Linked DNA regions of Homo sapiens. The protein of the gene in region 2 interacts with the protein of the main gene of each other region in a pairwise test. Each region holds a gene or a part of one and is shown on either strand. Other genes may lie near its edges.

The links. The genes of interacting proteins can lie anywhere in the genome.
Region 1: the proteins of RAB33A (region 2) and RUFY3 interact in binary tests that used the Homo sapiens proteins (3 or more experiments, as listed by UniProt).

The regions. Positions count from the first base shown.
Region 1 is NC_000004.12:70,717,067-70,724,963, forward strand, and holds the start of RUFY3 (protein RUFY3), read left to right. Parts: upstream 1-4,897; 5' UTR 4,898-5,507; coding exon 5,508-5,685; intron 5,686-7,897. UniProt on the Homo sapiens protein: ARL8 effector that promotes the coupling of endolysosomes to dynein-dynactin for retrograde transport along microtubules. Acts by binding both GTP-bound ARL8 and dynein-dynactin.
Region 2 is NC_000023.11:130,181,928-130,185,370, reverse strand, and holds the end of RAB33A (ras-related protein Rab-33A), read right to left. Parts: intron 1,087-3,443; coding exon 631-1,086; 3' UTR 501-630; downstream 1-500.

The DNA of each region.
Region 1 (7,897 bases), on a different chromosome or scaffold from region 2:
GCAAGAAGGAGCACATAAGTACATATGTTGGTCCATTTCTCCAGTTGAGCAAGGGTTTCAGGGATATTGGTTATATTCTTTAAGGACTTAAAATTATACATTAAGTTTGCTATTTTTAAAAAGCGTACAATGCATCATTTTAGAAAGTGATTCCCCCCTTCATTTATCTTTTTCTATTTTGGAATTTATCAGGTGTTCTTAATGTGTCCAACTAGTATGTAAATGTGGAGGGAACTCAGAGACAGAGTGGTAGTAGGGTGAACCAAGTACATAGTGGAAGCATTTTATCTACCCTTTGTGAGCCCATGACAGAAAAGTCCATACTGGGTTCTCAGTTTGTCAGAATGTGCCCACTTACTAAAAGCCTGAACTTAATATGTAAGTTGGGGGGCCTAGAGGAAGGTATGGGTTGTGCAGCATTAAGGTGTAAAGTATGGAGGCTGATAAAAAAAATTTCTTCAAATCTTAAATTTGTTGAAACTCATCTTTAGGAAATTTCATGAAGAGACTTTGCGTGTGTGTGTGTGTGTTTGTGTGTGTGTGTTTTAAATGTCTTTTTATTTTCTCTGAATAAAATTTAACATCCGGGGATGAGGAAGAGTTAGGATAGAGTGCTGAAGTTGCAGAGTGTAGAAGGAACATGGACTTTGGAGGTATCTAGACAGAAGTAGCTTGGAGTAACAGATCTGCTACTCGCTAATTGTGTGATTCTGGGCCAGTTACGTGGCTGAACTTTGGTTTCATTGTGTATAAAGAGAAGGTATCAATCTCTGTTTTGCAGTGCTTTTGTGAAGACTTGACATGGTATTTTTTTTTTTTTTTTTTTTTTTTTTTGAGACAGAGTCTTACACTGTTGCCCAGGCTGGAGTGCAGTGGCGCGATCTTGGCTTACTGCAACCTCCGCCTCCCGGGTTCACGCCATTCTCCTGCCTCAGCCTCCTGAGTAGCTGGGATTACAGGCACCCACCACCATGCCCAGCTAATTTTTTTGTATTTTTAGTAGAGACGGGGTTTCACCGTGTTAGCCAGGATGGTCTCAATCTCCTGACCTCGTGATCTACCTGCCTCGGCCTCCCAAAGTGCTGGGATTACAGGCGTGAGCCACCGCACCCAGCCCTTTACATGGCATTTGTAAAGCACCTAACAGAAAATAGAAATTTAATAAATGATAGCTATTTTAGGTAATTTTTCCACAATATATAACAGAGACATTGAGCCTGTCAAGTTAACCTTTGTCTTATAGTAGCAGCCGAGTACAAATATCCTTTAAGAGGAATGTAACTTCTGACTTTGAAGTGTGACTCTTATTTGCTTTGAATCCATCATAATGTGGAAAATACAGACTGTTTAAGCAGCTAGAACGTAGTATTTTTTGGATCTTCATTTTGGATTTGAACTTCACACAGGCCTATTCTTTTAGGGCCACAGACTGAACTCCCACCCGCCTCACAACCATCTTACAAATAGGTGCCATTACTCACAAATGGGATCAAATGAGAAAATAGTTCAATACAGCTCATACAGTAATTACTCTGTATGTGAGAAAAAAAATCAAGGTTTGAATATCTTACTGATGGCTTAACTTTAACTTCATATTCAAAGCTAAGATGTTTACTTAGTAAAGACCAAAATGTAAAAACGGTACTAAGCAATATCTAAAATCTTTTTTTTTTTTCTTTGAGACGGAGTTTCACAGGCTGGAGTGCAGTGGTGCAATCTCACCTCACTGCAACCCCCGCCTCCCAGGTTCAAGCGATTCTCCTGCCTCAGCCTCCAGAGTAGCAGATTACAGGCATGTGCCACCACGCCCAGCTAATTTTGTATTTTTAGTAAAGATGGCGTTTCTCCATGTTGGTCAGGCTGGTCTTGAACTCCCGACTTCAGGTGACCCGCCTGCCTCAGCCTCCCACAGTACTGGGATGACAGGCATGAGCCACCGTGCCCGGCCGTAGAATTGTTTTTATAAGTTTCTACAAATAGCACTGTTTTCATAGTAACTTCTTTGCCTGTGAACAATGGATAACTGTTCGTGCTGAAGACTCAATGGTGTTTACCTAAAGAACAGCGTAGAAGTACAGTTTTTCTTGCCCACCCCCGGGTCTTATTTCTGAAATGGCTGCCAACACCTCAAACTGGTAGATCTGGGAAATTCAAGGATACCAATACAGGCATGTTTTTCTTTCCTTGCCAAAAACTTTAGTTGTTTTGGGCTTGCCTCTCTGTGTCCTCTACCTGGAGAGAGGCAGGGTGGGATGGATCTTCCGAAGGAATGTTAATCAAGTTTCTTGCTCACTAACCTTGATGTTCCTGTTGTGTTGGTATGTTGCAATCAATCTAGATCTGTTCAAGTTAGTAAATGCTTACTGGGGTGAAGAGATTGTTGTGGTTTGTGACAAGGCCAAATTCAGGTTTTGGACCCCAGACAATCACATGGCATTCGGATTTATTCATGTATTCCTTGTTCTGTTTTAAGAACATATCAGTGATCTAGAGTTTTGATATCACACATACAGATAGCTAGGGCTGTTTGGAGTTGTGGTTCCAGGAATGTCCCATGTAATTTGAAGGTTTTAATGACTACTTACTATGTTTTGAAGTATTGCATGATATAAAGTGAATCTATAAACTGTCCCCTTATTAATATATAATATGGGAATATTTTTGGCTAGAAAGGAATTGAACTGAATTAAATGAGAATGTGTTAAATGAAGGCTTGTGTTCAGTATTTGGATATGAAAATTCTGTTTCCTGGAAAAGGTGTTTCTGTCTTACTGCTGCGTGCCTAGTGCCTGGATCACTACCTGGCATGTGGAGCACCTCTTAGTGAATATCTGTTGAATGAATGAATGAATGAATGGCTCTGAGTCTAGATGTAGGGTAATGATGAGAGAGAATGAGATAGAAATAAAACCAGGAGTATTTTGCTTTCCTTAGTAACTTACTGATTTTCCCCAATTATAAATAAGCCTATATATATGCCTTCTTACATTGTACCAGTATACCCTCCTTCTTTTTTTTATTTTGAGACAGGGTAGAGTGCAGTGGTATGATCTCGGCTCACTGCAGCCTCTGCCTCCTGGCCTCACGTGATTCTTCCACCTCAGTCTCCCAAGTAGCTAGGACCACATGTGCGCGCAACCATACCTTGCTAATTTTTGTTTTTGTAGAGATGGAGTTTTGCCATGTTGCCCAGGCTGGTTTCAAACTCCTGAGCTCAAGCCATTCACCTGCCTCAGCCTCCCAAAGTGCTGGGATTACAGGCACATGCCACCACATCTGACTAATTTTTGTATTTTTAGTAGAGATGAGGTTTCACCATGTTGGCCAGGCTGGTCTCGAACTCCTGACCTCAGGTGATTTGCCCGCCTTGGCCTCCCAAAGTGCTGGTATTATAGGCATGAGCCACCGCGCCCAGCCATCCGCCCTGTCTTCGTAACAATATGAAAATGCCAGTTTCTCTACAGAATTTGATTATTAGCATTTTTTTCTTTCAGTTCAGTCTCAAATTATGATGAAGCATTTGAGATTTTAACAATATTCAAGGAGAATTTTTTTAGTTTTCAGAAATTAGGTAAATCAAGATGTCCCTCTGATAACAATCCCTAGAAAGGAATAGTCTCAGGTCATATTTCTTGAATTTGTATGTTCCTCCTTAAAATTGGAACCCTTCAATACAAAAACAAACAAACACTTTCTTTCAATTGTCCAAAACATTTTCAAAGAAAATTCTTATTCTTCTCTTTGTAATTTATGTAGTTCATAAAGCAAGTACCTGCCCTTTTGCTACCAAGGTATAAATGCCTCATTGGATAATATAGGGCCGTGTGTGTGTGTGTGTGTGTGTGTGTGTGTGTGTGTGTGTGTGTGTATTAAGAAAATATAATTGTCTTCAGTATCTTATCGAATGGGAGGATTTTAAAAATATAACATGGTTTAATCTGCTTAGAAACATATTTCATGCTTAAGGCTGGGCATGGTGGCTCACGCCTGTAATCCCAGCACTTTGGGAGGCTGAGGTGGGAGGATCATGAGGTCAGAAGTTCAAGACCAGCCTGGCCAAGATGGTGAAACCCCGTCTCTACTAAAAATACAAAAATTAGCTGGGCGTGGTGGTGGGTGCCTGTAATCCCAGCTACTCGGGAGGCTGAGGCAGAGAATTGCTTGGACCTGGGAGCTGAGATCACGCCACTGCACTCCAGCCTGGGCTACAGAGCAAGACTCTGTCTCAAAAAAGAAAAAAGAAAAAAAAAGAAACGTATTTTATGCTTAATACAGAAACTTGATAAATACAACAAAATCAAAAAGGGGGGAAATTGCCATTAATTGGGAAAGATTTTACTTTTTTAACTTGAAGTTTTTTTTTTGCATTTCTGCCTAACCTAAAAGGTCAGGTTTTTGTACCTTGGAGAAGGAAATTATAAATGCCCAAGAATAAGATATTTAAATTGAAAATCTACTTTAGCTTTTCTTTTTATCTTTTTGTTTTTTTTCCCTCTGAGAACCTCAATTTTTTATGCTTTAGCTTTTCTTAAAACATAACATTTAGCATAGTAAAGAATTTTAATAGCTATGTAGATAAGAATGAAAGAGGTGAATTATATGCTTGTTAAATTAATCTAACTGCCTCTTTTACCATCTTTACTATAGATTATTATCCGGTATTAATTGTCATCCTTTTATTCAGTCCTTGATCCCAAAGTAAGAAGAATTGATGAGGATATGTGCATTGTGTTATGTCTGATCACAGTTTGACTAGCACAGTCTGGAAGTGGGTTGTACAGGATGAGAGAGAGAAGCCTAATTGCTCTCCCAGCATCAGCAGCATCTATAAAGCATCCTGGGAATTGCTTGCCCTACGTTCAGAGCAGCTGGTCACATGAGCCTGAATTTTCAGTTCAGTTCATTAGTCAGCCATTTTGGTCAACACCCTGCTTACTGCGCACGGCCAATCCTATGAGAACTCAGCATCCCAGCTCATCTGAGCAGATCCTGGAAGTGATTTCTGCAGCTCAGGATTTTTTTTTTAAGCTACATTGAAAATATAGGTTTATTTTTTGTTCAGGTTTTTCTTTTATATTTTTTTTCTGCACAAAGGAGGAGGATTTTTCACTTACTCATATCGAGGCCAGATTTTTAAAGCCAGCTAAGGCAGCATCAGCTGTGCGGGATTTAAAGCCTATAGCTCAGCTGAAAAAAAAGGTGGGGGGCAGGGAAGGGAAGATAAAAGGAGAGGAAGCTGGGAGAAGACAAGCATCATCTTATTTTGCTATGTGGTAGGAACTGTCTATAAGATAGTGTAGAATTGTTTATCTTGAGCAGTTTGTTCTTAACCTATAAGGTATTTTTCCTTTTTTTTTTTTTTAAACCTCCCCCACCCTTTTCCTGAAAGCTTTGTTTCAGAGCTTTGTATTGGGTTTTTTTGGTGAGGAGGTTGTATTTATTTTTTTGGTGTGTGTGTGTGAGTGTGTGTGTGTCTGTGTGTGTGTTGTGGTCCCAGCTGAGTCATCATGTCTGCTCTGACGCCTCCGACCGATATGCCAACCCCCACCACTGACAAGATCACACAGGCTGCCATGGAGACCATCTACCTTTGCAAATTCCGAGTGTCCATGGATGGAGAATGGCTCTGCCTGCGAGAGCTGGATGACATCTCACTTACACCTGACCCAGAGCCTACCCATGAAGGTATGGTCAGATCCTGTCCGCTAGTATTTCACCAGCATCCTCATTGTTATGGGGGAGGGCTGGGAGGATCAGGGAGAGGTAGAAAGAACCTACACTCTCAACTGTTAACAGTCCTGAAAACCTTGCATCCTTACTTACCACCCAGCTCCCCTTCTCTTGCTCATGGGGGAAAGATAATTTTTTTTCTTGCCCCTTTAGGTATCCTTTCAAAAGATGCTGGATACTCGTTTAGAGTTCTTTGTCTTTAAGCCTCTAAATAAAACATTTGAGGTCACTTATCACATCTGATTCTATTCAATAATGAGAAAGCTATTAATTTTGTTCATATATGAAAATGTTATAGAAATTGTAGTGATTTATAACACTAAGTTAAGACAACATGACTATAATTATAGGATTGTACATGATGAATACAGTAGAAACACCAGGGTATTTGGTAATGGTATCCTCACCATTATATGAGGATACAATTTTAAGCAAGTTATGACATCTAGGAAATGTTTGATAAAACATTTTTTTAACAATATGGATTATTAGGTTAGATGAGAAAATAACTTTTCAGCATTTATTTATTGAATATGGACTCCTAAGAAAGCATAATGCCTGGAAAGGTTAAATATGATTAATATGGCATCCCTATAGATTACAATAGAATGGTAATATTGGAATCTATTGGCCATTGCTTTTTATAAATTATTTGTGGTAACTATTATGATCCATTTGAGATTTCCACTGTCAGTACCTCTGAGATCTTTGTGGTCTCTTGACTTGCGACTTTTTTCCAGGACTCTTGCTAATTTATGAGAGGTTTTCTGCTTCTACCCTTTAATTCTCTTAATACCACAGAAAGAGAGCTGATTTGAATCATAGCTACAAATCGTTTTGTTTTTAATACAGTTGCTTCTTAGCTAAGGTTTATTCTCTGTCCTTATACTGATGAAAAAAAACAAAAAACGCTTGCATATGAGGAGAAATTCTTTATAAACATCTGCCTGATAGTTAGGCACATCGACAGGACAAAGAAGACCATAGGTGAATTGTACCTAGCAGATGGGGTTAGGAAAGGTGATTCTCTGCCTTTGACCTTGAGTTGAAATCTTATCATGACTCAGAATTTTCCCATTGTGTTTGATAAGCATTTTATCTTCCCAGTCAGCCTTAGCCTTGAGAAAGTTTTAGGGATGGTTAATAACACAGAACACAAAGCAGTCATTTTGGGTGTGTCTTTAAGAACAATGTTTAAGTGGTTTTTAAGACCCTTTGCATCTTTTAACAATTGGTTTGTTAATTAGACAGCTTTCTTTGGCTGTATGTTTCGTTATGTGCACAAGTTATAAGACATCAGCTGAAATTCCATGCAATGCCAGTACTATTTATTTTTTATTATTATTTTATTCTATATTTTCATCAAAACATCGTTACATCCAACAATTCCAGTACTACTTAAAACAGCCTCCAAAGCTTTAAAAGTCTTTAGGGAAGAAAAATACAGTTTTAGAAGGCTACCAAGAAGTCTTCTGGCAACTGCCTCAGTTTACATATTTTGTTTGAAAAAAATGTATTCCCGTCCAATTTGAGAGTTATACAATATGAAATATTCCCTTTATCATGAAATCTAGTTTACCAGTGTCTCAAAAATAATTTTTAACAATTTTAACACCTCAAATATATGTTTTTGGAGCAGGATTCCTATGGATAAGCAAAAGTGAGCTGTTTGGTTCATGTAAGCGTTTTTAGCAGCGCCATTTGAATTCTTCATAGAGAAATCTGTAGCAACACATTTCTCAGTATGGAAAATGTGTGAGAGCTATAATCTAAGTAATAAATTGTATGTCTGCTGATTAAAGAAATCAGATAAATACAGAGTTTCCAAGACCTGTAATCAACTATAGAGGATTTGGAAGAAAATAGAGAAATGCCGACAGTGCATTTTAGAATTTTGCCTTAAATTGGGCAAGAAAGCTATTATTTTAAATTACTAGAAATGAAAATAAAGAAAGCATAGTCCCATGAAAGCCTGTGAGTATTACTGCCTTGCTCCATTACCAAACTCTGGATATTTAAACAGTCATTTGGTCCCAAGAAATACCCACTTTTATGTTAATACCACTGATAGTTATTAGATTTAATTTAGCTATAAGCATTTAAGTGGTGGTCACCAGGCCCATGATTATGTGAATCTCACCTTGTTCACAAAATGGAACTCCTGATG
Region 2 (3,443 bases):
ACAGGTTTTCGCCATGTTGGCCAGGCTGGTCTCTAACTCCTGACCTCAAGTGACCTGCCTGCCTCAGCTTCCCAAAGTCTTGGTATTACAGGCGTGAGCCACTGCGTCCGGCCATACTTTTTACTTTTAAACTGGAAAATAGGGAGAGAGTAGTCTATCTGGACATTCAAGGCACATATCTAGGGAACCTAGGAAATACTGATGAGTCCACATCTCCTTTCAAGACTTCTCTATCACTCCACCTGCACTTGCTCTCTAGAAAAACATATCTGGCCTGTGTCCCAACCCCACCGGGTGTTTCTGCCCACTGATTACACTGAGTGAGAGAATGAATTAGTCCTGAAGAAGTGACTCAAACGATGAGAATTTCAGAGAGCCTAGAAAGCTGGTAGGGAGTGTGCCACTGGCATGGAGAATATCACTCTAGTAGGGCAAACTGCCTGTTCTGCTCATCACAATCAGGAATGTCTTGGAGGAAAGCAAGACAAAAAGCCATGTGATAATCTATACAAATTTTATTTTGATATCAATTTGTATGGAAACAAGCAGGTGTCAGCATTATGCAGGCACAGAAAAAAGGGAAAGAAAAAACTCCAGTGATAATTTATCTTGTATTTATATCGTTTGGTTTCAACAAGGACAGGAAGTTTTACTGTTAGCTTCCTGTGGGAACTCCAGTTTCTGCACCTTCCCCTGCTGCCTCTCAGCATCACGATACAGCAGGGATTTCTGGGCCTTCAATCGGCAAGCCAAGCACATGAAAATCGACTCCACGTTCTGGCTCTCTTTGGGGTCCTTGGCCGATGTCTCAAACAAGAGCATGTTGTGGGCATCAGCAAATTTCAGGGCTAAGTTGGAGGGCACCTGGATCTGTTCCCTCAAGTCACACTTGTTGCCCACAAGCACTTTGGGGACTAGTGGGGGCACAGCATGCCCATTGCATTCTTGGATCCACATTTTGAGGTTGGTGAAAGATGTCATCTTGGTGACGTCATAGACGAAGACCACGGCATGTACGTTGCGGTAGTAATGCTCGACCATGCTTTTGCGGAAACGTTCCTGACCTGCTGTGTCCCACACCTGAACCTGGAAGATACAAAAACCCAAAGGTGGAGTCAGAAAAGGGAACATGAACAGAGAGGAGAAAACATGGTTCTGTAGCACTATAAAAATGAAGTGACAGGACGGGTGCGGTGGCTCACGCCTATAATCCCAGCACTTTGGGAAGCTGAGGCGGGCAGATCACCTGAGGTCAGGAATTTGAGACCAGCCTGACCAACATGGAGAAACCTCAACTCTACTAAAAATACAAAATTAGCCGGGCATGGTGGTGCATGCCTGTAATCCCAGCTACGGGGGAGGCTGAGGCAAGAGAATTGCTTGAACCAGGGAGTCGGAGGTTGCAGTGAGCCGAGATCACGCCATTGCACTCCAGCCTGGGCAAAAAGAGCAAAACTCCATTTCAAAAAAAATAAAAAAAGTGACAAGCCGTGACACAGGAAGTGGTTCTTTGACAGATGAGCAGAATGGACTTATCAAAGCATAAAGAGAAGTTTCAGGATTTGTCAAGTTTTTCTTAAGATTGTTAACTGAAAATCTTGAGTTGAAAAAAATCTTAAGATTTTTAGTTGAAAAACTGGATGTAAATTGGTCAACTTTTCTGGAGAGCAATTTGGCAATATTATCAAGAACCTCAAAAATGTTCATAACTCTTAGGACCTGAAATCTCACTTCCAGAAATCTATACAAAAGAAATAGGGATGTGGTCAAAATTCTGTACTAATATCTTACAGTGTTATTTAGAATTTTTTTTTTTGAGACCGTGTCTCGCTCTGTCACCCAGGCTGGGGTGCAGTGGCGCCATCTCGGCTCACTGCAAGCTCCGCCTCCCAGGTTCACGCCATTCTCCTGCCTCAGCCTCCCAAGTAGCTGGGACCACAGGTGCCCGCCACCACGCCTGGATAATTTTTTGTATTTTTAGTAGAGATGGGGTTTCACTGTGTTAGCCAGGATGGTCTCGATCTCCTCACCTCGTGATCCGCCTGCCTCAGCCTCCCAAAGTGCTGGGATTACTGGCTTGAGCCACTGAGAATTTTTTTAAAACAGGAAAAACCTAAATGCTCATCAGAAAAGGAATAGCTAAAGTTCATGTCTATACAGTGGGGTCAGGTACAGTGGCTCATGCCTGTAATCCCAGCACTTTGGGAGGCTGAGGCAGGTGGATCATCTGAGGTCAGGAGTTCGAGACCAGCCTGGCCAACATGGTGAAATCCCATCTCTACTAGAAATACAAAAAAAATTAGCCAGGCCTGGTGGTGTGTACCTATAGTCCCAGCTACTCGGGAGGCTGAGACACAAGAATTGCTTGAACCCGGGAGGCGGTGGTTGCAGTAAGCCGAGATCGGGCCACTGCACTTCAGCCTGGGCAACACAGTGAGACTCCGTCTCAAAAAGAATAAACAAAAATGAAAATATATCCGTACAGTGGGATATTATGCAGCCATTAAAAATAATGTTTTCAAAGACTAAATTGTAAGAGAAACGCTCACAAAATACAAGTAAGTGAAAATGCAGAATACAGAATTTTTCTTTTTTCTTTTCTTTTATTTTTTTTTTGAGACAGAATTTCGTTCCTGTTGCCCAGGCTAGAGTGAAATGGCACGATCTCGGCTCACTGCAACCTCTGCCACCTGGGTTCAAGCAATTCTCCCACCTCAGACTCCTGAGTAGCTGGCATTACAGGCATGTGCCACCACGCCCGGCTAATTTTATATTTTTAGTAGAGACGGAGTTTCTCCATGTTGGTCAGGCTGGTCTTGAACTCCCGATCTCAGGTGATCCGCCTGCCTCGGCTTCCCAAAGAGCTGGGATTACAGGCATGAGCCACCACGCCCAGCCTCAAAAGTTTTCATATGCTATGGTCCCAGTTTTTTTTAAGAAACGTTAAACATAAACATATGCAAAGCACAGACTGGAAGTGTACACATCAGAACATTAATGGTTATTTATCAGCAATGAGACTATAGTGATATTTATTTTCTTCTTTTTAAATATTTTTCCATATTTTCTTCTACAAGTATGCATATATATGTTATATATATTACATATATGTTATATATAGTGTATATGTTATATATATTACATATATATGTTATATATATTGTGTGTATATATGTTATATATATGTGTATATATATATATATATATATATATTTTTTTTTTTTTTTTTTTGTAGAGACAGAATCTTGTTATGTTGCCTAGGCTAGTCTCGAACTCTTGGCCTCAAGCAATCCTCCTGCCTCGGCCTCAAAATGTGCTGGGATTACAGGCATGAGCCACTAGCCTGAATAACTTTTTAAAGAAAACAAAGTTAGTATTAAAATCTCACCTTCAAGCCCTATTTATTTATTTATTTATTATTTTGAGATGAGAGTCTTGTTCTG